Linked DNA regions of Homo sapiens: region 1 is linked to region 2. Evidence: fine-mapped expression QTL. A gene starts in region 2. The other region holds a variant in brackets. All regions are shown on one strand. Distances are from middle to middle.

Evidence for each region. PIP is the estimated chance that this variant, and not a neighbour inherited with it, causes the effect.
Region 1: its variant is fine-mapped to the expression of CHCHD5 in tibial artery (GTEx, PIP 0.98).

What each region holds. Positions count from the first base shown.
Region 1 is chr2:112,189,875-112,200,652 of GRCh38, reverse strand. It overlaps a transcript of FBLN7 not described here. Among named protein-coding and RNA genes, the nearest start is that of FBLN7, 57 kb to the right of the region's middle. The variant T/C (reference allele first, on the strand shown) is at 4,688.
Region 2 is chr2:112,579,912-112,590,689 of GRCh38, reverse strand. CHCHD5 (coiled-coil-helix-coiled-coil-helix domain containing 5) reads right to left here and starts at 6,081. Exons shown (of 4, transcript NM_032309.4): 1 at 6,041-6,081; 2 at 4,576-4,716; 3 at 4,325-4,490; 4 at 1,650-1,824. The coding sequence starts at 6,042. The coding sequence ends at 1,801. LOC101927330 (a long non-coding RNA gene) reads left to right here and starts at 5,418. Exons shown (of 2, transcript XR_923204.3): 1 at 5,418-5,553; 2 at 6,177-7,703. RefSeq lists enhancers at 6,188-6,357, 5,655-6,406, 5,673-6,872 and a silencer at 8,104-8,398.

The DNA of each region.
Region 1 (10,778 bases), 390 kb after region 2:
TGAGGCAGGAGAATAGCTTGAATCTGGGAGGCAGAGGTGGCAGTGAGCCGAGATTGTGCGACTGCACTCCAGACTGGGGGACAGAGCGAGACTATGTCTAAAAACAAAATAAAACAAAAAACAAACAAAAAAAACCATTTACGCCTTATCCATGAAACAACATAGATGGAGGTGATGTGTCCTTCTGCTCAGGTAATTCGAGAATTCCCCAGACAAAGGCAGAAATGAAGGAGAATGGCCAAGTATGTAGCTAGTGATTCCCTATGCATAAGCCAGCTGCATACATGCCACCCCTTATGTGACATTCCCACGAACATCTGAGGTGTCCCCCATGGCTCTGCACAGTTCCTCCTGGGCAAGCCATACTCCTTTGTTATTTCCAAGCTTGAGAATCTTAATTAGTACTAGCCACCAATTACCTAATACACACTTCACAGCTGATCACCACACTCCAGTGGATCAGGGATTGCAGTTGAGAGCACTGGTTGCTTGAGTTGGGAGTTGATGTCTCTCAGTCAAAGACCACCAGGAACCCACATATAGTCAACAAAGTCAGGTTTACTATTTGCTGCAGCAAAAGAGGTTGCATATGGGGGGTGTCTTTGTCTGTTTTCTGTTGCTATAACAGAATACCACAGACTGGGTAACTTATAAAGAAAATGTTTAGCTCATGGTTCTGGAGGCTGGGAAGTTCAAGAGCATGGAACTGGCATCTTGTGAGGCCTTCTTGCTGCATCATACCACGGTGAAGGGCATTACATGGTGAGAGGGCAACAGCAGGAGAGCCAGAGAGAGCTCGCTTCTATAATAAAGCCCTTCCCTCAATAACGAACCCACTCCTGTGATAGTGACATTAATCCATTTATGACCACACAGGCCTCATTAACCCATTAATCCATTCATGAGGGCAGAGCTAACACTAATTCATTCATGAGGGCAGAGGGATTAATTTTCCAACACATGAACATTTGGGGGCACATTCAAACCATAGCAGAGAGGAACTGAGGAACATCTTAACAGGAGGGAATTGGGGACAGACAGGGCATTTGAGACCAGAGAAAGTCATAGGATGATCCTGGAAGGGATGGGTGAGATTTTGTAAACTAGAGAGTTTCTGGAAGAGTCAGTACTCTTGTCTGGCTGTGTGAGTGAGTGGGTGTTAGGAGAGTTTATGCTTAGATGATTTGTGACATTCATGTTCTGAATGGGTGCCATTTATGGGTTAGCTCTAGAGCAGCAATGTTGAAAAGTTGTGGCTTGTTTCAACTCTCAGTTCTCCCTGACAGCCTTGCTGCCAATAGAGCAATTTTTCACTCCGTCACTGGAAAAGTGACGATGAGAGAAATGAGAGAAATGGACACCAGGAAATGACTCTGCCCACCGTACAACTGTCTGTCACCATGCAAAGAGGGAGAGTTGCATGCAGGGATGCTAAAGGAGAAAAGACACCCTGGGCAATTTCTCAGGGGGACCGCCTTGACCTGGGAGGCATTTCTATGGAATTCCTGTCCATTTGTCTTTTGACTCACTTTTGATCTTGATTATAATTTTTTCCCTTCTGTTTGTCCAAGAGGAAAAGGAAATGTGGGTCATGCATCCTGGTTCCTAGGGCAGAGCCTGGCTTTAATTAGCATGCAGATGGAACCCACATAGTCCTTCACTTGCTCTGTAATGTCACCTGAAGTTAATAAAAGCAGAGATTCCAATTAGTTAGCCTGACTCACTGGTAGACTATAGTGGAGGGAGGCTTCCCTGGCTTTACTGAGGGTGTATCTTAGTGCATTCAGGTTGCTATAATAAACTACCTTAGGCTGGGTGACTAATAAACAACAAAAATTTATTTCTCACAGTTCTGGAGGTTGGAAAGTCCAGGATCAAGGTTCCAGCAGGTTTGGTGTCTGGTGAGGACCTGTTTCATGACCCATAAATGGTGCCTTTTTACTGTGTCCTCACATGATGAAAGGTAGCAGACACACTCTGGGTTTCTTTCTTTCTTTCTTTCTTTCTTTCTTTTTTTTTGAGACAATCTCACTCTGTCACCCAGGCTGGAGTTAGTGCTGCAATCTCGGCTCACTGCAACCTCTGTCTCCCAGGTTCAAGCGATTCTCCTCCCTCAGCCTCCCAAGTAGTGGGATTACAGGTGTCTACCAATACACCTGGCTAATTTTTGTATTTTTAGTAGAGACGGGGGTTTCACCATGTTGGCCGGGCTGGTCTTGAACTCCTGACCTCAAGCAATCTGCCCACCTTGGCCTCCCAAAGTGCTGGGATTATAGGCATGAGCCACCGCACTCAGCCTCTGGGTTTCTTTTATAAGGACACTAATCCCATTTATGTGAGCTCCGCTTTTATAAACTAATCACCTCCCAAAAGCCCTACTTGGTAACACCATCACCTTGGAGATGAGGTTTCAATGTATTAATTTAGGTGGTTGGGGGAGACATAAACATCCAGACCACAGAAAGGGGTAAGAGCCGAATCAGCTGCTGCAGGAATATTGTTACAGAGGAGGGAGACAGCAGGCCTGGAAGAGGAGGTTTCAGGGAGGGAGTGTTTTTGATCCTGCAGATTCTGAGGAGAGAATGGCTTTGATTTTGTTTGCTGTTCTCCAGGCAAATCCAGGGTGGGGATTAAGAGTCCATAGCCCTTCCTGTTCCTGGAGTCAATGAATCTCTTTATGAAATATGCTGATTGAGCCCCTTGTTTCATCTTTTTACTGCTGAAGTGAGTAGAATCATGTCATTACTAGTTATAAAATTAGTCCATGTCTTTTTCAGAAATAGAAAAAGAAAAAAGTCCACGATGTTTGAAAATCAGCTCCCTGAATGTCCCAGTATGACTCTGCCCTCATTGCAAAATGGCTTTCCTCTCTGGCTTTAAATTTAGCTGCAGTTACACTAATAAAGTCATCATCTTGCTCCAAGATCATTAGCAAAGAAAGGGATGGCTGAGCTAGGATGTGGACTTGAAGTGAAGTGACTGGTTGGCAGTTGGTGGCTGTCTATGTTCCCTAGGATGGGGATGACCCCTTTCAGCAATAGGTGATTTACCCTCAGCTGGTGTTTGGAGGGGAGGTTGGGATACTAGGTGTGTTCATTTCCTAGGGCTGCTGGAACAAAATACCACAAACCAGGTGGCATTCTCTCACAGTTCTGGAGGCTACAAGTCTGAAATAAAGGTATATACAGGGCCACACTTCCTCCAAAGGCTGCAGGGAATGATCCTTCCTTATCTTTTCCTAGCTTTTGGTGATTGCCAGCAATCTCAGCATCCCTTTGCTGTGAAAGCATGACACCAATCTCTGCTTCTGTCTTTTCTCTCTCTCTCTGCATGTTTCTCTCTCTGTCTCTCTCTCTCTCTCTCTCTCTCTCTCTCTCTGTGTGTGTGTGTGTGTGTGTGTGTGTGTGTGTGTGTGTGTTTTCTCTTACGGATGCCAGTCATTGTATGATGATTCCATCTTAACTAATTACATCTGCAAAGACATTATTACTAAATAACATCACATTCATAGGTACCAGGTGTTAGGACATTGACTTGGTTTGGCTGTGTCCCCATCCAAATCTCATCTTGAATTGTAGCTCCCACAATTCCCATGTGTCATGGGAGGGACCTGGTGGGAGATAACTGAATCATGGGGGCAGGTCTTCCCCATGCTGTTCTTGTGATAGTGAATAAGTCTTAGGAGATCCAATGGTTTTATAAAGAGGAGTTCCCCTGCACAAGTTCCCTCTTGTCTGCTGCTATGTAAGACATGCCTTTGCTTCACCTTTGCCTTCCGCTATGATTGTGAGGCCTCCCCAGCCAGGCAGAACTGTGAGTCCATTGGACCTCTTTTTCTTTATAAATTACCCAATCTTGGGTATGTCTTTATCAGCAGCATGAAAACGGACTAATACAGACATAAACATATCTTTTTGAGAGACACAGTTCAGCCTACAACACAAAGCCTATTATGCTCCTCAGGCAAGAGGCTGGGACAGAGCTAAGGCTGGCCCTGATCAGACTCTTCCATGATGCTGGAAAGGATATTCTAACCTTTGATACAGGCCATTCTAGCCTGAGTTTTGCAATTTAAGTAATCAGGCTGGGCACTGTGGCTCACTCCTGTAATCCCAGCACTTTGGGAGGCTGAGGTGGGAGGATCGTGCGAGCCTGAGAGGTGGAGACTGAAGTGGCATGAGAACATGCCACTGCACTGGCATGAGAATATACCACTGCACTCCAGCCTGGGTGACAGAGCAAAACCCTGTCTCAAAAAAAAAAAAAAAAAAAAAAAAAGAAGAAGAAGAAGAAATTAATTTTGGGGGAAGGGTAAGGCAGGTGCACAGAGTCAAATGTGTTCTGTTCCTCAGTCCACAGCATAATCTCCCCATCAATGATAGAGGGATCTTGTCATTTTATTTTCTCCCTTTCTGCCCTGAGTCAGTCAGGATAGTTATGCTGGAGCAACAGACAACCTTAAAATCATTGTGGTTTAAAACAACAAAGAACCATTTTTTGCTCATGCTTTTGTGCCTCATAGATCAGCAGTTCACTGTGATCACTCAGACACCTGAGCTGACAGGGCAACCTCCACACTGAGTGGGGCCATTGGCCATATGAGAGGAGAGAGAACTCTGGGGGTCCCAGCATCTGTGAGTTCCTTGGCCTGGAAGAGACTGGCACCATTTCTGAGCCACCACTGGTC[T/C]CAGTGACATGCCCTCCCACGAGGGCACAGAGTGCCAGCCTATCATGGGCCCAGAGGTGGGAGAGGAGGAAGTATTAGGCCAAATTTGCTAATGTCTACCACAAATGCCAACTGTTTTGTGCCTTGTCCATCACCTTGCCCACAGGACAGGCTGGCACTGGAGCTGCCTCAGTGAGCATGCAGACAAGATGCCTGCTCTTGTGGAGCTGGGATGCCAGCAGGTCAGGTCTGTAGGGATGCTTAGAACGGCTGCAAACAAGAACTCCATCTGAAACCTACTTAAATCATAACCACGTTATCTCACATAACAGCAAGTCCAGCATTAGTATGAGAAAGACTCCCTAGAGGGCAATGTTCTTGCCTCCTACAGCTTTCAAGCCCAGGTCTGGCACCCCCTGGGAGCTGGACAGGAATGAAGGAATGGGAGCAGTAAATTACCTTGCCACTCAGGGCCCCAGCAAGGGGTGAGGAGTGAACTCTTCCTATGATGGAGGTTTGCCTGGGTCAGGTGGACAAACGAGTCAAAGAGGCAGAGATCTTTATTTGCAGAAACATGTCTGGCCACTCAGCCAACCATAAGAAAGGAAGGCAAGCTATTGCGTAAGTGCCACCGCATGGCTGAGGTGAATCCTGGCATAAGTAAGCAAGGTATATGACAGAGCACACTTTCCCCCTAAAGAATGCATCTAAAGCGCTCCCTGAGCTAAGAAACTAGATTGCTACGATCTAATTTCTCATTAAACGTGGTCAGATTCAGAAAATCCCATCAGCCCAAATCTAATTTTCATCATCATAGTCTCTTGTTTGCAAGTCAGCTAATATTTCTGTGGTCTGGCCAATGCTGTGTTTTGTTGGAAATCCTCTTTGTGACAAAGGGTGGCCTAAGTTTCTCATTAGACTTCCTCTAATAAGAACCAACTTCTCCATGAATCAAGTGCCAACTTCTCCATGAATTGGTCTTGACTCTTCCAGTGATCCCTTTCCCCCAACTTCTGACCTTGGTGAACCTGCAGCACCACCCACATTGGATTTCTCACTCTGTTTCTACCATTGTTCAAAGTATCCCCTTGTGACAGATGTGGAGATCTTACTTCTGAACTAGAGGGTAAGTTTTATTTTAGGCAGAAATCATTTGTTTGAAAAGAACACCCAAAAGAATGCATGCAAAGGAAGACTGAAAGGACACAGGGCTATCTGATAAAACCCACTGACGGGAAGCCAGGTTGCATGAGGCACTGGAAACCCAAACAGGAAACCAGGAGTGGCGTTTTGAAAATTGGCCCTAAAATCCTTTGAAACCTCTCAGCTCAATTCAATTTAGTAAGTACTCACTGGCCTATGTCCACCTCCCAGGACTCAGTGGCTTCTTGTGACTACTTTGACCAACAGAGTATGGTGGAGGTAACAATATGTGATTGGGTCCTAAAAGGCCACGTAGCTTCCACATTGTTCCCTGGAACACTCATGCTAGTAACACGAGCCACTGTGTTAGAAGCCCAACTACTCTGAGGCCACCTGGCTCAGAGGTGGCTTTATTGGGAGTCTGAACTTGTGCCCAAGGAGAGATATGAGGAAGTCAGACTCAAATGGGTCACTTTCCACCAACCACTGCCTCAGCTTTACCAAGCTCTCCCTGCAGGGAAGGAAAGATGAATTTTTGTGACTCTTAGCTTGTACATATGAAAATCTCTAAGTGTTTACGAGCTGCATAAATATTCCTGAATGTCTGCTGTGTCCTACACACACTGTTCTAGGTGCTAAGCCACATGGAGAGCCCAAGGGTAGATGTTCCAGTTATCGGTCCTAGTCTTTAGGTCATCCCAGCCCAGGCAGACATGTGAGTGACCCTTAGGTAACCCTAGCCCCCAGGCATGGAGTCTTCCCAGCTGAGGGAAGCAAAGACATTGTGGAGCAAATAGAAACTATTCCCCTGTGCTCTCTCTGAACTACTGGCCCACCGAATCCATGATAATTCATAATAAAATAATTGTTTTAAGCCACTAAGTGTTGGGATATTTTATGCAGCAATAAGCAGAACACAAAATTAAATTCTATCCTTCCAAGCCCTATGTTCTATTGTTTCCTTTCTTCCCACATCAGCATCATTGTTCTGTTTGTAGACAAGTTGTCTTTCCCTTGTGCACATGAGCCCAATATGGCCATCCAAAGCTTTACACCACTACCTCATTCAAACACTCAGGAGAGATTCTGAGTCCTAAGGCCAAACTCCTAGGATATGGGATCCAACTGTCATTGCACACGATTACGGTGTTTGCAACACCCAAGTGACGTGGATGATATACATTTGGCCCTCCATACCCACAGGTTCTGCACAATCAACCAACTGCATATCAAAAATATTCAGAAAAAAGGAATAAAAATAACATACGTTTTAAAACGTAGAGCAACTATTTATACAGCATTCACTTTGTATCAGATATTATAAATAATCTATAGATTACTTAAATTATGCAAGAGAATGTGCATAGGCTCTCTTCATATACTATGCCATTTCTGGTTTTTTTTGAGACAGAGTCTTGCTCTGTCACCTAGGCTGGAGTGCAGCAGCGCTATCTCGGCTCACTGCAACCTCCACCTCCTGAGTTCAAGTGATTCTCCTGCCTCAGCCTCCAAGTACTTGGGATTACAGGCATGTGCCACCACACCCAGCTAATTTTTATATTTTTAGTAGAGATGGAGTTTCACCATGTTGGCCAGGCTGGTCTCAAACTCCTGACCTCAGGTGATCCACTCGCCTTGGCCACCCAAAGAGCTGGGATTACAGGTGTGACCCACCGCACCCAGCCCTATGCCATTTTTCTATCAGGGACTTGAGCATCCATGGATTTTGGTATCCATGGGGGGTCCTGGAGCCCATCCTCTGCAGATACCAAGGGATGACTGTAATTACATATATTACACATACATTTACTATATACTGACAAACACCTTTCACTGCTTTTGTTTTTGTAGTTCTCATCCCTCTTTGACATTACACGTTTTTTCATTTACACATCTATTTTCTGTCCCCTTGCCAAAATGTAAGCTCCATGAAGTCAGTGTCTTCAGCAATCTTATCCACTGTAACTTCAGCAAGTAGAACAGTGCCTGGAACGCACTAGACATTCAGGAATATTCACGCAGCTCATAAACACTTAGAGATTTTCATATGTACAAGCTAAGAGTCATAAAAGTTTATCTTTCCATCCCTGCAGTGAGAGCTTGGTAAAGCTGAGGCAGTGGTTGGTGGAAAGTGAGCAACCCATTCGAGGGACTTCCTCTCTCCTTGAGCACATGTTCAGACTCCCAACAAACCCATCAAGTTGACTGTGACTCTGCAGTGGTATTTCATTGTTGGCTTATTTTTCTTTTCGTTTGCTAGTGTTGTAGGTATAATAATTCTTAAAAAGTGATTTTTAAAACCCATCCAGAATCCTAGCTAACTTTCTACTGCTCAAGTGCCCAGGATCTATTTGGCTTGCCTCTTGTCTCTTCCTGGTGGCAGCTGACTGATACCCAGATACCCAAGTCAGGCAGGTGGGCTAGCTGTAGAATACCCCTCCACTCAGGCCTCTCTGTCCTTCCAAAGGAGGGTTTGGTGGGTGGGGCAGATGTGAGAACTGGAGGCGTCACTGGGGCCTTCTTTGATTCAGGAACAAGAATGTTCATACATTGCTGTTGGGGGTGGAAAATAACATAATTCTTACAGAGGAAAAGTTGGCCCTAAAGATACAAAGGCAAAAATACAAAAAGACATATGCATATTGCTGCAATATTTTTAATAGCAAAGGGCTAGAAACAACCCAAATGTCAATCAGGAGTGACTGGTCGAATAAACAATGGTATGCTGTCATAATGAAGCATTACAATGGAAAACATACTATATGGTTCTATGGAGTGACAGCCAATATTTTAAGCAAAATAGAAGGGTCCAGGAAAGTGTGAAATAGCATGCTATCATTTATCATTTGTTTATATTGCTTAAATGGAAGGATAAAAGGGGAAATTTGATTACAGCAGAAGAGAAGCAGGAAATAGGGTGGAGGGAACCGGTCAGAAGATAAACTCTGAATACATTTTGTTCTGTAGATTTGACTTTGGAACCATGTAAATAGTTTACATAATTATAAAACAAAGTTAAAATTAAAAAGCAATCTCTAAAAATTTCAGGAAAATGAAGGAGGTATAATCAGTAAATCCTGATTCTAGTTTGGAGCATGCCACAGAGAGGGGAACCATTCCAAGTAACTTTACAACAGTAAGTTGACTGTCTGTCCCTAATCGCATAAATGCTGAGGACACAAAGAATTGAAGAAAAAAAATGATTTTAGCTGTTTTTAGTTATCACATTTGTGTGTTAAGGTTGGCATTGTTCTTATAAGAATTTTTTTTAATGTGTAGTTATTTTGGTGATGTTTAGAAGGAGGTTTTCAGAATGAGAGAAAGAGAGCAGATAGAGGATCAATGAAGCTATGTTAAAAATGAAAACAAGGCCAGGCGCGGTGGCTATGCCTGTAATCCCAGCACTTTGGGAGGCCGAGGCGGGCAGACCACTTGAGGACAGGAGTTTGAGACCAGCTTGGCCAACGTGGCAAAACCCTGTCTCTACTGAAAATACAAAAATTAGCTAGGTGTGGTGGTGCATGCCTGTAATCCCAGCTACTCAGGAGGCTGAGGCATGAGAATCACTTGAACCCAGGAGGTGGAGGTTGCAGTGAGCCAAGATTGCACCACTGCACTCCAGCCTGGGCAACAGAGCTGGACTCTGTCTCAAAAATAAAATAAAATAAAATAAAACGAAAACACTACAAAAAAATAAAAATTTGCTGGGCATAATGGCATGGACCTGTAGTCCCAGCTACTCAGAGGCTGAGGTGGAAGGATCGCTTGAGCCCAGGAATTTGAGGTTGCAGTGAGCTATGGTTGTACCATTGCAGTCTACTCTGAGTGACACAGAGAGACCCTGTCCCTATGCCAGTTCTCCCCTCTAACTAACAAAAAACCCACAGTAGTCCTGAATTAAATTGGAAGTATCAGCATGAACTCATGTAGTGTTTTATCTTAAAAAATACTAATAATACATATTTCCTAGCTCTAGCCACTAAAGCCAAGAAACTATGATGTAACCACTACCAATGAGCACTCTGAGCACTCAGACCTTGATGTCTAATTACCATCCCCCACTAGAAGGAACCAGGGATTACTGGGAGAAAACAGCTGATTTCAGGGCAGGGGCAGAAAATATACAGGATGAAAAAGACTACTAGGGTCATGTCAAAAGGAATCAGCCACCTCGAAGCAGCTCCCAAGAACCAAAGATAGAACAATTTGAGCAAAAACAAAGACAGTAGCTGTAATTACTATTAATACAGATGATAACACACATGATAACATCAGATATGTTTCAACCATGAGTTCATAATGTACTCAAAGAAGAAAACAACTCTCACAGGGCATGTTGGAAAGATGCCTGTGAACCATCTCATTTTGAAAACTGAAAAATAAAGGGAGGAAAGCCAAGAATCAATCCTACTTTTCTTATACAAACCAAATCTCAGGGTAACCAAATAACTGATGAGAGTGTGTTTCTCTTTATAAAGTATGTCAGCTAATAAACAAAGAAAAAATCAATAGCACTAGAATATTAATTGCAATCCCTACAGAAGTAATGGATCTGTGCAATCTGCGGGGGCTAACATCAGAAAAGAGAGGCAACCAGATATTTTGCTCCTCCTACTGGAAGCATCTGTCACCACCAATAAAGTAGTCTTGCCTAAATAAATCTAACTTGAATCTGACTAACTCTCTAGATTTATAAGAAATAGAGAAGACAGAGATGCACTCAGAAAAACTCATACTGTGAAAAATTCTACAATATAAATGACCCTATATTTTGTCTTCCAACAAACCTTCAGATTATTCCAATATATGCTGAAGTGTGAGACCCACTGCTACAGATTAAAAAAAGGCTTAAAATGCATATCAATAAATCACAGTGCATAGACCTACTGCAAGTAAACAAAAAAATATAAGCCACTCAGAGAAATGTCAACGATGGCTGAATATTTAAAGGTATTAAGGAATTAATGTT
Region 2 (10,778 bases):
CTTGCTCCTTGATAGGGTAACTGGGTTATGTTCTATAAAGTCCCCCACAGGTCCCCAGTGGGACTGAGTCCCAGTTGCCCAGAGTGGTAACTCGCTTGATAATGCACCTTTTATTGGCTGCCTTCCTCTCTATTGTCTCCCTTCTCCATTCCTCTATCAGTGTTTCTGGAATCAAATTCAAATTACCATCTGCACTCAAATTCTGAGTTGGCTTCTGGAAAACTGGAAACTAAGAACAGAAATCCAGTGCATAGACCAGAAGCGGTGGCTCACACCTATAATCCCAGCACTTTGGGAGGCTGAGGTGGGCAGATCACCTGAGGTCAGGAGTTACAGACCAGCCTGACCAACATGGTGAAACCCCGTCTCTACTAGAAATACAAAAATTAGCCGGGCATGGCGGCCGGTGCCTGTAATCCCAGCACTTCGGGAGGCTGAGGCGGGCAGATCACCTGAGGTCAGGAGTTTGAGACCAGCCTGACCAACATGGTGAAACCCCATCTCTACTAGAAATACAAAAATTAGCCAGGCATGGTGGCGGATATCTGTAATCCCAGCTACTCAGGAGGCTGAGGCAGGAGAATTGCTTGAACTCAGGAGGCAGAGGTTGCAGTGAGCCGAGATCACGCCATTGCACTCCAGCCTGGGCAACAAGAGTGAAACTCCGTCTTGAAAAAAAAAAAAAAAAAAGAAGAAAGAAAGAAAAGAAATCCAGTACATGGCCTTCTAAGCCATACATCCTTCCATGTGGTTGTTTTCAATAATAAAGCCAGTATTTTCATCTCCATTGCCTAATGCCTCTGTTGCCCAGTTGATTCTGAATTCAGCAGGGAAAGACGCATATTATTTATCACCCCCCAAGCCTCCAGAAAACTGAAAACAGATTTGGAGAATGCAGCCAGGCACTGTGTCAAGTGCTTACGGTAGTGCTAGCTACTGTGGAGGCTGAGGCAGAGGATCACTGGAGCCCAGGAGTTCGAGGCTGCAGTAAGCTATTATCGCACCACTGTACTCCAGCCTGGGCAACAGAGCAAGACGTTGTCTTTAAAATATATATATAGGCTGCGCGTGGTGGCTCACGCCTGTAATCCCAGCAATTTGGGAGGCCGAGGTGGGCAGATCACGAGGTCAGGAGATCGAGACCATCCTGGCTAACACGGTGAAACCCTGTCTCTACTAAAAAAAAAAAAAAAAAAAATTAGCCAGGCGAGGTGGCGGGCGCCTGTAGTCCCAGCTACTAGGGAGGCTGAGGCAGGAGAATGGCACGAACCCCGGGGGGCGGAGCCTACAGTGAGCCGAGATCGTGCCACTGCACTCCAACCTGGGCGACAGCGAGACTCTGTCTCAAAAAAAAATAAAAATAAAAATAAAATAAAAAATATATATATTAAAAAAAAATAACAATTTGGGGAATGCTAGAGTGGAAGGGATTGAGGGTCTTTACCCCAGGCACATGCAGCAGAAGTCAGGAAATGGCTGTGTGGCAGAGTTCACAAGGGAGGCAGGGTAGTCTCAACCCTGGGGCACAGCTGCAGAGTCCTGTTCTTCCCAGGCACTTCCTTGGCACACCCGGTGAAGCTGGGGAACAGATGACTCTGCCCAGCCAGCTCTCCTAGGACCCTCTCAGGTACGGATGGCAGGAATCAAAGCCCAGTATACAGAGTCTTTATTTATTGGAAGTCCTGATATCCAGGAAAGCCGGGCCCATGTCCAGGGCTCAGGACTCCATCTGGCCACTCTGCAGGGGAGGGGCGTGGGGGCAGTCATTCATGTCCAGTTTTCCTGCCGTCAGAGGAGTCCTCAGGAGGCAGGAAGTGGCTGTGCCTGTGGAGAAAGTACATCAACATCTAGTAGCACCTCCTCTGTGCCCAGCCTGGGGAGCCTATGTAGACACCACAGAGGGAGACCCTGCAGAGCCCACAGTCTGGAGGGAGAAGGGTGTTGGGCAATGACCTTGGCCCTGAGCCATGTGAAAAAGTCAGCTGTGGTGAAGTGTCATGGGAGGCAGGGAACGCGCCATTCTGCTATATTTACTGAGCACCTGCCGTGTACCCAGCAGGCAAAACTCTCTGACTCAAGCAGGGAGAGACGGACAATAAATATGTCAACATCCAAGAAATTCGATGAAGAAAATTTAATCAGGGTAAAGAGCAGAGGTGTGTGCGGAATGGGAGGGACATGTACCACTTTGATTGTCAGCCACAAAAACACAGGACATTCTGTAAAGTCTGTATGCCATGCTGCAGGAGATGAGAATGTTTGTGTTCGCTATTGTGTAGACCAGACAACAAATCTCACTGCCCCTAGCTAGGAAGGAAAAACTGTAACTGGGATGCCATCCCCAGGAAGGAGGGGATGATGAGGAGATGTGACCTAATTCCCTTTTTTTTTTTTTTTTGGAAGACAGAGTCTCGCTCTATCGCCCAGGCTAGAGTGCAATGGTGCAATCTTGGCTCACTGCAACCTCTGCCTCCTGGGTTCAAGCAATTCTCCTGCCTCAGCCTCCCAAGTAGCTGGGATTACAGGTACCTGCCACCACACCTGGCTAATATTTGTATTTTTAGTAGAGATGGGGTTTCACCATGTTGGCCAGGCTGGTCTCAAACTCCTGACCTCAGGTGATCCACCCACCTCGGCCTCCCCAAGTGCTGGGATTACAGGCATGTGCCACCGCACCCGGCCCTAATTCCCATTTTTAAAAGCTTCTTTGGCTGCCAGGGAAGAGAAGACTGTCAGGGCAGGGGTGGCCACAAGGAGACCAGAGAGAGGCTGGTTGCTGGTCCAGGGAGGGAAGCAGCAAATGGCTCTAAGATAGGAGGATGGGGTCTTTACTGTTCAGATGCCCAAAAAACTTGAAAGACAGAAATGTCCCCAGCAGCTGACTGAGAACAGTATGTGATCGTTAGGTAACGTTTCCTGAGGAGAATTAAGTTCCTTCCGGCTCTCAGGGGTCGTAGTTTCTGCCCTAGGGGTCTGAACTATTCACTTATCCTTGCCTTACAGAAACAATTAATGCCTATAGGGCCTGGTAAGAAGGGCATCACCCCAATCTTCAGCCAAGAGCTCCCTTGACACAGGCATAGGATGTGAGCCTTGATGGAGGGGCTCAGGGACCTTGGGAACTTGAAGACAGGGGCGGGAAGTGGGTGGGACATCAGGGAGGTTTTCTGAGAGACGTGCCGTCTAAGCTGGAATAGGAATTAGCCAGGAGATGGATTAGGAAGGGCAGTCCCAGCAGAGGGAAACAGCTGGACAAAAGCAGCGGAGACGTGCACTTGAGTAACTGCATGTTCACTGGGGCTGGAACATAGAGCTTAAGGGGGAAAGAGAGGAGAGGTGGGACCACGGGTCGCAGGGACTGCATCCCACAGGGCCCTGTGGGCTGTGCTGGCATTAAGACTTGGGCTGGTGGAATTGAGAACCATGGAAAGGTTTGTAAGTAGAAGCAGAACATGGTCAGATTTCCTCTGAGATCAGTCTAGGATGATCACCAAGAATGACTGGAAAGTCAAGATGGAGCATGGGGCCCAGGAGAAGGATGGCCAGGTGGCCCAAGAGAGAAGCCAGGGCTGCAGGGGCAGAGAGAGGGCCCCAGGAGAGGGTACTCACAGGGGCTGGGGAAAGATGTGACTTTCACCTTTGGAGCTCACAGTCCAGTGAGGAGGGTAGTAAACATCTAAAAGAGCATTTTTCAACCTTTTTCCGTTACTGCCTCTCCTCAAGGAGTCATTTTAGACTTTTGTTCTAATTGCCCAACCATGAAACTTACATATCACAGATATACTGTATATCTGGTTTACATATTAGATACATTTAAAAGAGTGACCTTTTTTTGGCCACCCCAGCCCAGCCCCTCTGCAGTTGCAGATGAGGAGTAGTGAGAAAGAAGAGAGAGGGTGAGGCAGGAGGCAGATGAAGTCAGCCTAGGGAAGAACACAGAGAACCCAGCAAGGACCTGGACTTTTGTTCTCAATGTGACACAAAGCCACTGGAGAGCTTTAAGCATAGGTGTGATGAGACCAGATTTCAGTCCTTACATGCTCACCCAGGCCGCTTTATGGAGGCAAGAAAAGAGGGAGGAAGGGAGACCAGGGAGAAGGCTGGGGCAGGTATCCTGGAGGTGGAGGGTGAGGGTGGTGGTGGATTAAAGCAGGGGCTATATGGGGCAAGAAGTGATGATGTTCTGGATTCTGGATGCATGGCAAAGGCCTGTGTGGTGATGGGGTGGGGCTGAGGATGACTCCAAAGTCTTTACCCTGAACAACCAGAAGGATGAAGGGGATGTTATGGAGAAAAGAGATGAACTGAGGTGAGCCCCTCTTACCTCCACAGTTGCAGGTGAGCGTGGCGGCTGCACCTGCTCAGCGCACTGCAGGAAGCGGCGCATATGCTCTGCACAGTTGCCCACAGCTGCCTCGTTCTGTCGAAGACACTCCTCGAAGGCCTCAAAAGGCTGAGCACAGGCCTGGCGGATCTGGCGGATGATTGGGCTGTGGGGGTAGGGCAGTTCAGCCCCTGGGAGATTCCCACCCCACTGCCCACCCCCCACACTGTCTCATACTTGCCCGCACTCACTGGGAGGATGTGCACTGGGCAATGCTCATCTTAAGGTAGTGACAGTCCCGCTGCCAGGATTCCGGCTTGGCCGCCACACACTGGCCATACTGCTCCAGCTCCCGGCCACAGTAGCGAGCGGTGACCTCTAGGGCCGCCTGCCTGTGGGACAGGATGGGCTGAGGATCATTCCAGGCAGTAGGCAAGCAAGGGAATTCTTTTTTTTTTTTTTATTTTTTAGAGACAGGGTCTCACTGTGGCCCAGGCTGGAGTGCAGTGGCACGATCATAGCTCACTGTAGCCACCAACTCCTGGATTCAAGTGATCTTCCTGCCCCAACCTCCTAAGTAGCTGGGACCACAGGCATGAGCCACCATGCCCAGCTAATTTTTTATGTTTTGTAGAGACAGGGTCTTGCTATGTTGCCGAGGCTGGTATTGAACCCCTGGGCTCAAGCGATCCCCCTGCTTAGACCTCCCAAAGTGCTAGGATTACAGGCATAAGCTATGGTGCTCCGCAAAGAAAGGGAGTTCTGGTCTGGGTCTGAAGTAGGACTAGGAGTTCAGGGCAGATGTGGGAATCTGAAGGATCCTGAGATGGTGCCAAAGAAGTGGAGAGGTGAGGCCCAGCCCTGGGGCTTGTAAAGCAGGAGGGGAGCTTCTGGGGAGAGAGTGGAGGTTCTAAAACAAAGTCTGATTAATGTAAGGTAGGCCTTCAGGGTCCTAGAAGACAGGCCTTGAAATCCAGGCATCCCCCAGTAGGCCTGGGGATCATGCACAGAAGACTTGGGGCCTTAGAAGAAAGATCTAGAATTCCAGGGAGAGCTTGAGAGCCCTTAATGGGTTTGGGGGTTCTAAAAGTGAGGTTTAGAGCTCCAAGAGGTGGGGTCTCAGGTCCTGGGGAAGAGTGTCTTAGCCAAAGAGTCTTCAAGATGAAACCTAAGGCCCTGGTGCGGGACTCAAGGTCCCAGGGGCGTGAAGTCTGGAAGCCCTGGATGAGGTTGGTGCTCTGGGAATCCTGGGCAAGGTCAGAGTGGTCTAGGAACAAGTCTGTGGACCCTATAGGTGAGGACTGGGGTCCCAGGCAGATCTGGAAGGTTCAAAAGGTAAAGTTTGGTGATCAAGGGGGAGGAACCTGGAGCTCTGAGGATGGGTGTAGGAGTCATAGAGGTCCCTAAATAAGTCTGTAGTCTTAGGATTTCAGTGTGAAGGCCGGACCTGGGGTACTGGGGGCAGAGATTGGGTGAAGAGTGACTGGACCGAAGTCCTAAGCAGCGCGAGAGGGGGCGAGGCCTAAACGCTTAGAGGGCGGGGCTTGGGCATGCGGAGGGTTGGAGCTCGTGAGCGAAGGCGCTGAATCCTGAGGGTCAGATCTCCAAGAAGGAGGGAGGCTGGTCCTAGTTCCCGAGGTCCTAGACTAGGTCTAGATCACTGGGTAAAAGAAGGGGAGCGGCAGCACGTATGGGGTAGGCGCTCTCACTACTCACATCTCGAGACCTTTGCCGGCGTAGGGCTGTCCGGGGGGAACGACCCGCCTTTTCCGGTATCGGTTGTCATGGCGGCGCCCAGCCCAGCCTGGTTTTTTCCGGTAGCCAATTGAACTAACAACCCCGTTCCCTTTAGGACTAATCTGTCACGGCGGCGCCCTACCTCTTCTTCCGGCCCGGCTCGTCATGGCGGCGCCCTGAGTAGCCACTTCCGCCCTCTTCTGGCTAAATTGCTTCATCCCTATTTCCGGCTTGCCATGGCAGCGCTCGGGGTTTAACGGAAGTAAGCAATGGAAAGTATGGTGGTGCCTCGGGTCCAAAGAGAATGCGCCGCTGAGTTGCGCGGCACCTGACGGGATTGAGCCTCAGACACAAGCGCTCCAAATCTCCGACTGTAGCTGGTGGGAAGCGCCTGCTGTTGCTGCAGCGTCTCAACATGTTGTTCCCATTTTCGTTGGGTGCTGTAGCGGTAGGCTGTTGGGCTCAGGGATAGGGGGCCTGATTCCTAACGCCGCGCTGCCACCATCGGCCTTGCGCAGACGCTGATAATCCCCCTGGCACCCAGGTTCATGCGAGCGCTTGGAACAGGAGGGAAGAGGGAGTCAAACCAAGAGCCGAACTAATTCGGCTTGGGCCTGCCATTTACCCAGCCTGGGACCCAGACGTTTCCCCATCCCTTAGCGTACGCCAGGACAGACATGGCGTTTAATCCTGACTCCATGAGACTATCAAGCTAGTTACTTCCTCTCTTTGTAATTAATTCCTCCTAATGTAGCAACATTTCCCCCTTCCTTCTCATCTGTCTTAAAAGTGTGAGGTTAGACCTGGGCGTGAGTTTCCCCACATAAGAGACTGGATATCCCCTGGTCAGAGAACTGAGCATCAGTCCTGCCGTTTCGTTTGCAGATCTTTCAAGACTCTAGTCAAAATGAGCAGAACATTTTGCAGTTAATCATAGAGTTGAAGATGAACGAGAAGATGAACGAGAGCTACTTGATTGTGAACTAGTAACGACCACTTGGAGTCGCAGTGTGTCTGTAAAATGATGATGACAGTGACATCATAGAGGACATAGTGCAAGTGAACAGTTTGATACTGAGCTTGGAGCCTCAGTAGTTCTGGATAAGTGAGAGCTGTACGGGAGGTTGTAACCATGAGCTACCCTGGTTGGCAGTTGACATCCGAGGACCAGCACTGGTCATCGCACAGAAAGAAAACTTTACACCTTGAGATCCCTCCATTCTTCTTAAACTTCCAAGTGTATGTTTGATGGGAGAAGAGGGGAAGGGATCAACATTTAAAGGCTCTGGAAGGAGTCAGATAACTGTTTTTGGCTTCAAATGTAGAATGAATCCCTAGATTTTCCTCTACTGAGAGAATGAAATCTTAACCCATTCCGTTCCCTTGTTGGTACTCAGAAACGGATACCCCAAAGATGCATTTTGACATGCTGAAAGGCCTTAGAAGCTGCCTTAGAAGATCTGTCTAACCTTGTCTTGTTGGTGTGTGGAAGTGGGAATGCCCACAGGTGCACAGGGAGGGAGTTTCTGAAATTATCTGACCGAGAAAGCAAAAAAAAAAAATCAATTGTCTTAAACCCGGTTTCTAGGGATCTCATTAAAGAACTAGGAAAAATTAACCACCTGTTAACAGAAAAACCAAACTGAAATGTTTTAAAGAGATTTATTTTGAGCCAATATGAGTGACCATGGCCTGGGGAACACAGGCTCAAGAGGTCCTGAGAAAGTGTGCCTGAGACAGTAGAATTACAGTTTGGTTTTGTACATTTTAGGTGGACAGGAGTTACAGACAAAGACATAAATCAGTACATGGAAGGTACAGATTGTGTTCAGCTGGGTGCAGTGGCTCACGCCTGTAATCCCAGCACTTTGGGAGGTCGAGGTGGGCGAATCGCTTGAGGTCAGGAGTTCGAGACCAGCCTGGCTAACATGGTGAAACCGTGTCTCTACAAAAAATACAAAAAATTAGCCAGGGATGGTGGCAGGCACCTGTAGTCCTGGAGCTACTCAGGAGGTTGAGGCACGAGAATTGCTGCGGAGGTTGTAGTGAGCCGAGACCACACCACTGCACTCCAGCCTGGGTGACAGAGCATGACTCTGTCTCAAAAAAAAAAAAAAAATTCTACGGTATTTTTATAATACATTTTGTAGTACCACTTATAACCACTTGGGTGCGTGGGTTGCCCATTAAATCAAACAGTTTACAGTTCACCCTTGAACAACATGGATTTAAACTGTACTGGTCCACTTATACTCAGATTTTCTTCTGCCGCTGTCACTCTGAGACAGCAAGACCAACCCCCCTTCCTCTCCTCAGCCTACTCAATGTGAAAAGGACAAGGATGAAGGCCTTTATGATGATCCACTTCCACTTAATGAATAGTATATTTTATCTTCCTTACGATTTCCTTAATAACAGTTTCTTCTCTCTACTTTACTATTGCAAGAATACAGTATATAATGCATATAACATACAAAATATGTGTTCATCTATGTCATCAGTAAGACTTCAGATCGACAGTAGGCTATTAATAGTTAAGTTTTGGGGGAGTCAAAAGTTATATGTGGATTTTCTACTGCATTGTTTAAGGGTCAACTGTAGATTCAACGACTACCTAGGATTGTAGAGTTGACTGATAGCACTGGGACTGATGATAACATCATAACCTGTAAGAAGTGTCAACAATGGTGATGGACCCCCAGCAACCCTGGAGTGGGGATGTCTAAAGATAGATGTCATCCACCAGGCAGGAGTTGGTGCTGCCAGTGTGTCATGTACTGCAGCCTCTTTTATTTATTTATTTATTTTTATTTATTTTTTGAGACAGCATCTCGCTTTGTCACCCAGGCTGGAATGCAGTGGCACAATCTCGGCTTACTGCAACCTCCACCTCCCGGGTTCAAGCGATTCTTCTGCCTCAGCCTCCCAAATAGCTGGGACTACAGGTGCGCACCACCACGCCAGGCTAATTTTTGTATTTTTAGTAGAGACGGGGTTCCATCATATTGGCCAGGCTGGTCTCAAAGTCCTGACCTCGTGATCCGCCCATGTCGGCCTCCCAAAGTGCTGAGATTACAGGTATGAGCCACAGCGCCTGGCCTGCAGTCCCTTTTACTACAACAAATATGGGAAAGAGTCACAGGTGTGGCATACGGTGGTGGCTTCTGCGTTAGAAACATAGGCCAAGTACAGTGGCTCATGCCTATAAATCTCAGCACTTTGGGAAACTGAGGTGGCCAGACTGCTTGAGCCCAGGAGTTTGAGATCAGCCTGGGCAACATGGCGAAATTCTGTCTCTACAAAAAGTACAAAAGTTACCCGGGTGTGGTGATGTCATAGGTAGTAGATTTATCCTTCAAACATCAACAACTAAAAAATCTGGACAAAATAGGAGACAACAGAGTTCAGACATTGGAAACAAGCATTGTAGCACAGTGGTCCCCAAGAGAAAGGAGACAAATGAAGTGACCTTAGTGGCCCGGCTTATGTCTGGAGAGTTAGTTTCTAGGCTACATAGCCCAGGGGTGTCCCTGAGTTGGGACAAAGTTGAGAATTTGGAGAGGCCAAGGCAGCTAGTTTGTAAGGCAGGGTACCAGAGAGTAGCGCAGCACAGACCTGCAAAGGGTTTCCTGCACGTGTAGCGCACAGCATGCCTGTGAACACACTCCTGGAAACCAAGGGAACTACCAGGAAGGTGCAGGCAGAGCAATCCCCGGAGCCATAGTGGAGACCATCACTGTGCACTGGCTAAACTACTCAAAGATACTGCCTGTCTAGTGAGGCAAAATTAGCCCTAATGGCCGCTCTGGTCTCACCTAAGTAAGCTCAGAAACACTGAAGCAAGCTCTCAGTTCGAAGGAAAATGGAAATCTGGCATATGAAATCAAGATCTCCAGATACAGTAAATATAACTCTTATGACAAAATAGCACAAAGGCCAAGAGACAGGAAAGTGTGTGCTGTTGCTAAGTTGTTCTACTACCTGTGAAGTGGTAGAATATTACATAAAAGTGTGACAAGTCTAAAGATGTACACTAGAAATTTTAAGAGAAACAACAAAAAATGAAAATGGAGGTAGGGTTAATAAGCCAACAAAGGAGATAAAAATGAAATAATACAAAATAAATTAGCCCCGCACAAGTATGGCCATCTGATTTAAACCCTGTCACTCCAGCTGGAGTGCAGTGGCGTGATCACGGCTCACTGCAGCCTCGACTCCCAGGCTTAGACGATACTCCCACCTCAGCCTCCTGGGGAGCTGGGACTACAGGTGCACACCACCATGCCTGGCTAATTTTTTTAGTAGAGATGGGGTCTGGCTGTGTTGCCCAGGCTGGTCTCAAACTCCTGGGCTCAAGCAATCATCCCACTTCAGCTTCTCAAAGTGCAGGGATTACAGGCGTGAGCCAGTGCACCCGGCCTATGGCCATCTGATTTTTGACAGAAGTGCAGAAGTAATTCAATAGAGAAAGGATCGTTTTCAAGTAACAGTCCTGGAGCAATTGGATATCTATTGGCAAAAAAAAAAAAAAAAAAAAAAAAAAAAATCTTGATCTAAACCTTACACTTTGTACAAAAATGAACTCTTAAGTGGAAAATGGATCATAGATTTAAATATAAAGCATAAAACTATAAAACCTTTAGAAAATAACATATGAGAAAATCTTTGGGCTAGGTGAAGAGTTCTTAGACACAACACCAAAAACCTGTCAATTGGG